2 separate regions of the Homo sapiens genome follow, and region 2 is linked to region 1. Evidence: fine-mapped expression QTL. Tissue or cell type: lung. Region 1 holds a variant in brackets; the other region holds the start of a gene. All regions are shown on one strand. Distances are between the middles of the regions. Region 1 overlaps CYRIA (CYFIP related Rac1 interactor A). Region 2 holds the start of CYRIA (CYFIP related Rac1 interactor A).

Region 1 (4,387 bases):
AGTGTGAGCAGTAAGTTCTACTTGAAGCCTTTTCAGTGCAAATGCCTGCAGGCCCCAGGAGCAGATCCCTCCACTTTGCCCAGCCCTGGAGTCAGGAGGAGGGAGATGTAGAATGTTCAAGTGGCGGGTTCCCACCGTGAAGGACAGAGCAGGCCACCACTCTACGGCCAAGTGAGCACAGGCCTCTTCTGTGTGCAGCCTGAGGCAGGCTGGCCTCGTCCCCTTGAGGGACCTGACAAAGACTGGCTTGTTCTCCCCCGACATCAGGCCTCACCCTCAGGATTGCTCTGTCCTTCTGGGGCAGGATCTCACACAGCGATAATCGAGCGAAACAGAAGAGAAGAATGGAGTGAAGATGGTCCCAGGCGTCGCCATGCCAACCCTGGGCCTGTGGAGGGCGCCTGCCCTGTGTCCTGTCTGCACCTCCCAGTTTGCACCAGGGATATCCCAGTGGTAGAGCTGCTGGTATCGGTTCAGAAAGGCCAGCTGCCTCGTCACTGAGCCACCGAATGTTACAGTAACGTTCAGTAATAGCTGCAATAGGTAGGTTGACTGTTCTCTGCTTTTGCATTGCATTTAGCGATCTAGATTTTCTATTATAACAGATATTTTTGTGGAGAGTTGAACCTTGGAAATTTCATAAATCTTATTTTTGGAGGGATCTGAGGGATCATTGGGTCTACCTCTGTGTGATCTCATTTGCAGGTGAAGAAACAGGCTGGGAGAGTGGAGGCAGTGTTGGTTGTAGAAAGAGTGAAGACTTCATAGCCATCTAGTCCAGCTCAAGGACTGAGATATTGTATGTGAAGCACTTAGTACAAAGCCCAGCCTGCAGTGGGGGCTCAGTGGGTCCTATCCCTGGTTACAATGTAAACTTTCATTTGTGCAAGTGGAACTAATCAAGGGGCCCACTTGTAAAACCAAATGCATACTAAACCAGTAGGAGAGGAACTCCGGATTTCGGGACCAATCCTAAAACGACCACTGGTTACTTGGGGGAGGCAGAAGAGAAGGGGATATGACACTGGGACTTCAGATCTTTAGTCAAGTGCAGTGGTTCTCAAACTTGAGGACACTGAGGATTCGATTAAAACATAGACTTGCGTTCAGCAGTTCTGAGGTGGGGCTTGAGAGACTGCATTTGTAATAAGCTCCCAGGTGGGTGCCAGTCTCCAGACCATGCTCAGAGCAGTAAGAGCCTAGAAAACTCAAAGAAAAAACAATAAGCCATTTTGTATTTCATGGTTAGAAGCAATTTATGCAGAATTCATTGCCAGAGCTCCTTTATGGACAAGAACTACTGGCTCCTGTTTGGAGCCTGATCCAGTCCATCTAATGGAGTCACACAGAAGGGAATGGTCTTCATGAGTTCCAGAATCTTGCTGTGCCGCAGTTTCCTTATCTAAAGGCACTACTCTGCAGAGAGATTTTGAAGATGAGTAAGAGCCAGCAAAGAGCTTGGCATCCAGTAGGCATTCAAGAAAAGGCAGCTGTGGAGAGGGATGTGGCACCTTGCCAAGGCCATACAGCTGCTACGTGGCAGGTGACCGGGTGTCTCTACGCTCCGTCTCAGTGTATTTTCCATCTTCCACTGAGTACCAGAGGACCTGAGATTATTTTGTGTAGCTGAGCTGGGTTGTCAGATGATATGAGCTGGGGAGCAACTCAGACCTCATGTTGGAATCACAATTTGCTGTCTTCAAGTGGAATGAAGAAATAGCCCAAACAGTGCTTGATCTGTCTGGGAGGCTTGCAGGCTCTCCAGAGGGTGAAAGGCAAAGCGTTCGAATGTAGAGGACTGTGTGGCCACAGACAGCAGCCTGGGAACCCCGACGACAGGGGAAAGTTTAAATCAGGATAGAGCATCGCTGAGTCATCAGGAGCCAGGCTGGGCTTACACAGAAATTCAGAGATAAACTTTGTGCGTTTGTTTGTTTGGTTTAATTGTGGTCTTGGCTTATCAATCTAAACAGGGAAGTTCCATGAGGACTTTGCTGCCTTCTCTTGTGGATTGCAGATTT[C/T]CTGCAGGGACATCCTCCATGGGAGCAACTTGTACCTTTGTCCATCTCCCATCTGTCCATAAAAGCAGGCTCGGGGGTACAGATCATGAATTGAGGGTCTTCAACTATGTGCATTTCCATTTCCAGAGTATTTTCTGACTCAAAATATAATTTTAAGTGGGGGTTTTGTTTAAATGAGTTATAGAAACTCATTCTGATAAGCTTGTGGTAGGATTCCAACCTTTCTTTTTACCCTTAACTTGAGTGAAGTTGATTCAGCCACAACACAGATGTTTTCCTCAGTGGAAAACGTGACTTAAGAAACTAGTTGAAGGGGCTGGAGAGGATAATTACTAAGCCAAATGGCTAAGTCTATTCACGTTTCCTTCTCAAATGTCATAGCCCCGTTTTCTGGCAAAGTGGTCAAGACAGATGCTTTTGAAATGACCTTGAAGCAGCAATTGAGTTACTACATTAAGTAAGCGTTGGCTACTACAACTGTGAGTTTAAACACTTTTTACAAATGAGTGGAATCACGTTTAGAAAATATTCAGGATGTTGAACTTGATACTTCTGCTTTGTCCTTTTTTCACAAATTTCTGCATTTGTGTTCGGTACCTACCTGACCAGGTCTGGTATTTTTAATGTGAGATGATAATGCCCCTTAGTGGATAAGGTACTTAACTGCAAGCTCTTGCATTTGCCCAGAGAAAAGCTCTCCAATTTAGCAGAAATATACAATATAGTAACTCTTCAAACTAACCTACTGGAGGGTAATTGTGAGAATTAAATGAGGGCATTTGCATGTAGCGCTTAGCATAGCATCGAGTGCAGGGCTGACACTCAGCGAATGGCTGCTGTTAGTGTAGTTATCGGATCATGAGAATTTGATTTAGATGAAGGCCTTTTGAAAGCAGGGGAATGAGTGTCCTTGGGATTTCAGTGTCAGGGTCCTCTGTGTCTGCTCAGGTATGCATTATGAAAAGGGACTGAAGAGAATCATGTCCTCCCCTGGGACAGCACTACCCGCTGGCTCTCCTGCCCAGAGGTGGAGGCAGTAAATACCTGAAAATGCACTCCTGAAAATGCATGGAAGTCTCCCAGCCTTCAGCATTCTTCGAAATTCCTTCAGCTGGAATTTTGACTTAAAGGAGTGTACTAGTTCATTCTCACGCTGCTAGAAAGACATACCCAAGACTGGGTAATTTACAAAGGAAAGAGGTTTAATTGACTCACAGTTCCACATGGCTGTGGAGGCCTCACAGTCAAGGAGGAAGACGAATGAGGAGCAAAGTCACATCTTACACGGTAGCAGGCAAGAAAGCTTGTGCGGGGGAACTCCCATTTATAAAACCATCAGATCTCATGAGACACATTCACTACCATGAGAACAGTATGGGGGGGAAGTGCCACCATGATTCAATTACCTCCCACCAGGTCCCTCCCACGACATGTCGGGATTATGGGACCTACAATTCCAGATGAGATTTTGGGTGGGGACAGAGTCAGACCATATCAAGAAGTTCCATAAAATGAGCATCCACCTCCGCTTGGTGGGGAGACATTGCTATTTTGCAGCATCTATCCTTGAAGTTGGACTTCTCACGCAGCTCAGCCTCCTGCAGCTGATTGGCTGCTTCAGAGGCCAGAGCAGAGATGGTTCTGCAGGCTTGTCATCATGAAAGTAAGTCTCTGGCCATCACATCCTAGCAGTGGGTGGCAGGCTCTTCTCAAATCCTGCTGTCTTTTTTAGAAGTTAATTTGTGCATCATTGAGGACATATTTCACTTTTCTTGTTGACTCAAATTATCTTTCTTTTAACTTTCAAGCATAGCATGAGATCTTTAGCTATATCTTTATTAAAATGAGTGTCACCATGGTGGAACCATTTTTATTCCTCCCCTCCCTTCATCCCACCCTCTTTTTTCCTCCTTTTCTCTTTCTTCCTTATTTCCTTCCTTCCTTCCTTCTTCCTATCCTCTCACCCTTTTCCCCCCTCCCATCCACATGCCCTCCTTTCCTTCCCTCTTTCTTTCTAAGTAGTTGCCTGGAAGGACCTCAGGCTGGAAGAACTTGGATTCTGATTGTGGCCTTCACACTATCATTCTTCACTCATTCTTTCATGCATTCAGCCACACACATTCCCTGGGTGGCTTGCTGTGGATTCAATCACAAGTAAGTTCCAGTTCCCATCCAGGGGGTCTTCACCTCCTAGGAGGAGAGACAGGCAGGTAAGCAGGAGTGACCAGGAATGTGGAAATGTGGTGGGAGAGAGGACACAGGGGGCTGTGGCACAAGGTGCAGAGGGCAAGGAGTCCCCCCTGCAGGACTGGGACAGGCATCGTGGCCTGGCAGGAAACTACTTTCAGAGCAGGCTTAAGAGCCAC
Region 2 (4,387 bases), 52 kb before region 1:
CCTATCGTCAGGCTCCTTATTCGGGGCTCTGGTTAAGGCCACTCAGTCCCCAGGAGCTCCCAGGATCAAGTGCAGATTCTCAGGCTGTTGTTCTAGCTCTCCACTCTCTGTCCCACGTTGTGGGATCCCCCTGGTACGCTGGCCACCCCGGACCACTTTTCACCCAGGCCTCCACTTTGTCTCTCTACTTGGAGTGTCTTTGTCCGCATTTCCTGCCTATTGAAGTCTAACTTCCCACGTCATATTTTAGCTTAAAAATGCGCTTTTCAAGAATCTGCTCTCAGTTTCCCCCAATCACAAAGAATTCTTTCTTTTCCTGGGTCCACACAGCAAATATCTCTGTTAGTCTTTTTCCACAGGCAGCCTGCCTGTGTCCTCCTCAAGACCAGGGAACTGTGTCCTTATTCCATTACTTAGCACAGTGCCTGGCACTTTGTCCATGCTTCATCAATCTCTTTTAAAAAAGAAATACATGAAAAAGATGTCCTTGAAACTAGCACAGCTCAGTATACATTTACTTTAATTAAGATATTAAGGTTCATCTTAGCACACATATTGTGAGTGACAACCATCTGAAATTCAGTCTCAACTTACCTGCCTCCTAAATGGCAGTTTAATTTCACTATAATCTTTATGATAATAACCTTTAAACTTGTTATTAGTATTACTGATAAAGTTAAAAGACTTTCATCTGGTAATTTTGTCTTAGGAAACATTCAATTATTAAATTCCACACTGATCATTAGAAAACCCTATTATTTCATAATGGGCTGGGCAATACCATGCAGGTATCCCTCGATTATTGAAACAGAAGCCATCTCTAAGTGTGTGGAAGTGAAATCTCATGCATCAAATAGTCTACTCACAAACTTGAGCTGTATTAGTAGAGACAGATGGGTGTAAAGTGAAAAGTCCTCTCATGGTCTGAAATGATAGTGTTTTATGGGGATGAATGGTGTTTGTGGCTGATTAGTCCTCACTCTTCCCAAAACCTGGCCAAACTCAAGGTGGACAGATTAAGCCAGAAAATTTTAGGGGTGTGTGTATGTGTGTGTGTGTGTGTGTGTGTGTGTGTGTGTGTGTGTAGTAGACATGGTTTACCTCATGGCAAGAAGGCTTTTCTCATAGAGCCACTCACAGATAAAACACCTTTGCCAGACGGCTGCGGTGGTTCACGCTTGTAATCCCAGCACTTTGGGAGGCCAAAGTGGGTGGATCACGAGGTCAAGAGTTCAAGACTAGCCTGACCAAGATGGTGAAACCCCGTCTCTACTAAAAATACAAAAATTAGCCGGATGTGGTGGCAGGCGCCTGTAGTCCCAGCTACTCTGGAGGCTGAGGCAGGAGAATTGCTTGAACCCCGGGGGATGGAGGTTGCAGTGAGCCGAGATCACACCACTCCACTCCAGCCTGAGCTACAGAGTGAGACTCTGTCTCAAAAAACAAAAACAAAAAAAACACCTTTGCAGGAATTGACAACAGAGGCTGGTCTAGGGCATGGGGAAAACTCAAAAAGAGAACGGGAAAGTGTTTCTTCTGGTCCTAAGGACCCCTTCCAAGTGGGAAAATATTTCACTCTAACTAGACAGTGCCTTCCTGCCCTCTGTGAATTTTTGCCAAAAAACAGACCAAGAGCCTCTGTGGGCAGTTCAGGAGAGCCTTTCAGAGTGCAAAGGAAGCTTGGGCAACAAGTCCTCCCAGGGGAAACACCCTGGATCTCAGAAAGGAGAGGGGCCTGAACACCTTCTCCTGATGCTTCCCGCCTCCTCTGATCCCAGCCCACACAGGGCCCCAACCCATGCAGCTTCGGGCACGTACCTTGGCACACTATGGGGATTTAACACATGTTTCATGATGTTCTGGCTGATGGACTGGGAAAGGAAGCACCCGAAGCCGGGGTCCCCAGGAGCTCTCCCTCCCCTCAACAGGAGCTCTGACTCACAACCTGTTTGGCACTGCTGAGTCCTCTCCGGTTTCCTGAATCTCCCTCTCTCTAATGCAAAAAGCCTCCATGGCAGATGTTTTAGAACAATGATCACGTCAATGACGCTGTAACCCACTACTTTCTTTTTGCATCATAGAATTTTTTAAGTGTTTTTGCAGACTTACTCTTTAAGGTTAATTACATGTTTTGGATTGAGCCTTTGGGAAGACTTTACAGTGGTCCTATCGGATAACTGCGGGCCCCAAGGCTGGAGATCTGTTAATAGGGTGGGCAGAAAGGGACTGGGAGCGAGACTGGGTTCAGAATCTCAAGTAATTTGGAGTGTGCCTAGGGATTGGGATGATTTGGCTGGGCATTAATTTGAAGGTGAATATGCGTCTAGAGATTGCGGGGATTTCTTTTTCTTGGAGGGCAACCGTGGGTGTGGAGGAATTTGGTGTGCAGAAACAGAAAGGTCTGGTTCGGGCTTCCTCTGGGAAGGCAAGGCCAAGTGGCCAAGGCTGAGAAGGGGCAGGGGCGACCGTGCTGGGGCGGGTCCGCACCAGCTCCTGGGAGCAGAGAGCAGAGCCGGGCAAAGAGATGGGGTTGTCCAGGCTAGGGTGAGGACGCGGCCGGTGACAGCGCGGGTGGGGATCCCCCGGGGCCGGGGCGGGGCGGCTGCCGCGAGCCGGGCTGGGGGCGGGGCGGGGCGGGGAGGGACGGGGAGGGGCGGGGCGGGGCTCCGAGGCCGTCTCGCAGGCTGCGGCGGCCGCGGGAGAGGCGTACTCGGCGGCGGCGGAGCGGGCGGCAGAGCAGGGCGGCGGCGACTCGGTGAGCGCGGCGCGGCTGGGGGCGCGGCAGGGGCGCGGGCGGGGGTCTGCGGGCGCGGGGCTCGGCCTGCACGGGGCACCGCGGGGCACCGCGAGGCGGGGCGGGCGCCTCCCTGCCATCCTTCTCCTCCCGGACGCCCCTGCAGCCTTTGGGAGGGAGGGAGAGCGGAGGACACCGTCCGGGAGCCCTTCTCTAGCGATCGCCGGACAGAGGTCCGGCTTTGTGCCCCGTTGCCCTCTTTCTGAGAGGGCTGCCTCCTGATTGTGTTCCTTTCCCAGACCACCCTCCCTCGTCCCTCACTCACTTACCCCCCACCCCAGGTATCATAAGCTCCATTCTTGCAGGGGACCCCTAACACTCCCCTTCCCACCACCCGAGGCCCCGGGGTCCTGGGTACTCTCTACAGCCCCAAAGGGAGGGATGGCCCCCTCCCCAGCCCCTGCACACCTGGACCCTTCTGTTGCCACCTGCCACAGACGTTCTTAGCCAGCCAGAAAGCTGCTGTGCCTAGGACCCAGCACACCTTGCCGTCACCCTCTCTCCTCCCCCAGAACCCAGAACCCCAGTTTGGCAAAAGGCACTTTTCCAATACTGAGCTTTGGGAACAATTTGACCCACTTCCCAAAATGCTGGTCCCAGGCCAGCCATGCTTTTTGGTGGAGACACCTGTCTTGTCTGCCAGGAGACATTCTCTGTCAAAATGGGCCAGCCCGTCCCTGGGTCCTCCTCCAAGCTGCTCCTACTCGCTAGCCAGTGTCCCCAGAGACCAGGGCCAAGATCTTTGTCATTTAAGGCCTCCAAAGCTATTTCCCCACGCATCCCCAGAATTCCCCCAGCCACTGTTTTGGGGGTGCCAGGTCCAGAACTGATGGAGCAATCTTTCTGTGTCCAGGGCCTGATGTCCTCTCCCACACCCTTGTTTACCCGCCTGCTCCCCAGGGAACCCAAGACAGGGTCATGGGGCTGGAGTTTAGGGCCCTGATCTCCCCTGAAGCTCTGTGACCCTCCTTTTCTCCCTGTTAGAAACTTTCCTCTCTGTCACCAGTCACTATCTCCTCTGGATGGGACCTGGGCCATCTGCACAGTGTCGAGTCCCCAGGGCACAGAATGCTGATCTGGGACCCTGGAAGGCTGGGACTTGTGCTGGGGCAGCAGGAGGAGAGTGGCTGCTAGCCAGGTCTGGGCTTGGGTACCAGAGTTCTTTGGGTGGATCATTGTCGGCTTTCACTGATCTCTGGTTGGGGTTCGAGGGCTTGCTTTGCAGTGGAGACAGGAGGCAGAGCAGGGGCTGTTTTTCCTGCGTGCTTCTGACTGTCTTGTGTTGCTATGGTGACAGTTTTGCCTGTCTTCCTCCTTCTGACTCTTCTGGGAGCTGGTTTTTATTGGTCCGTTGTCCTGTCTTTCATGGCTCTAATTTCTCCTTTCTACTTGCTCTGAAATAAACAGTCATAAACATGGGCGCTGGGCCCAGGCTGGGGGCTGGCAGAACTTCACCTCCTGCTGGCCCTGGGTTCCTGTGAGGGGAGAGTGGGAAAGCGAGGTGGAAACAGACCTGCCCACATTCCCTCCTGCCTCTGGGCTCTGGCTCTGGGAAGGGGGCAGCAGCAGCATCACGGGCTTGGGCACATAGTG

What was found.
Region 2: it holds the start of CYRIA, and the variant in region 1 is fine-mapped to the expression of CYRIA in lung (TOPMed, PIP above 0.99).

The regions. Positions count from the first base shown.
Region 1 is chr2:16,611,920-16,616,306 of GRCh38, reverse strand. All of the region lies in intron 2 of CYRIA (CYFIP related Rac1 interactor A), which reads left to right. Among named protein-coding and RNA genes, the nearest start is that of CYRIA, 52 kb to the left of the region's middle. The variant C/T (reference allele first, on the strand shown) is at 2,022.
Region 2 is chr2:16,664,148-16,668,534 of GRCh38, reverse strand. CYRIA (CYFIP related Rac1 interactor A) reads left to right here and starts at 2,701. Exons shown (of 12, transcript NM_030797.4): 1 at 2,701-2,755. RefSeq lists silencers at 2,495-2,664, 2,735-2,784.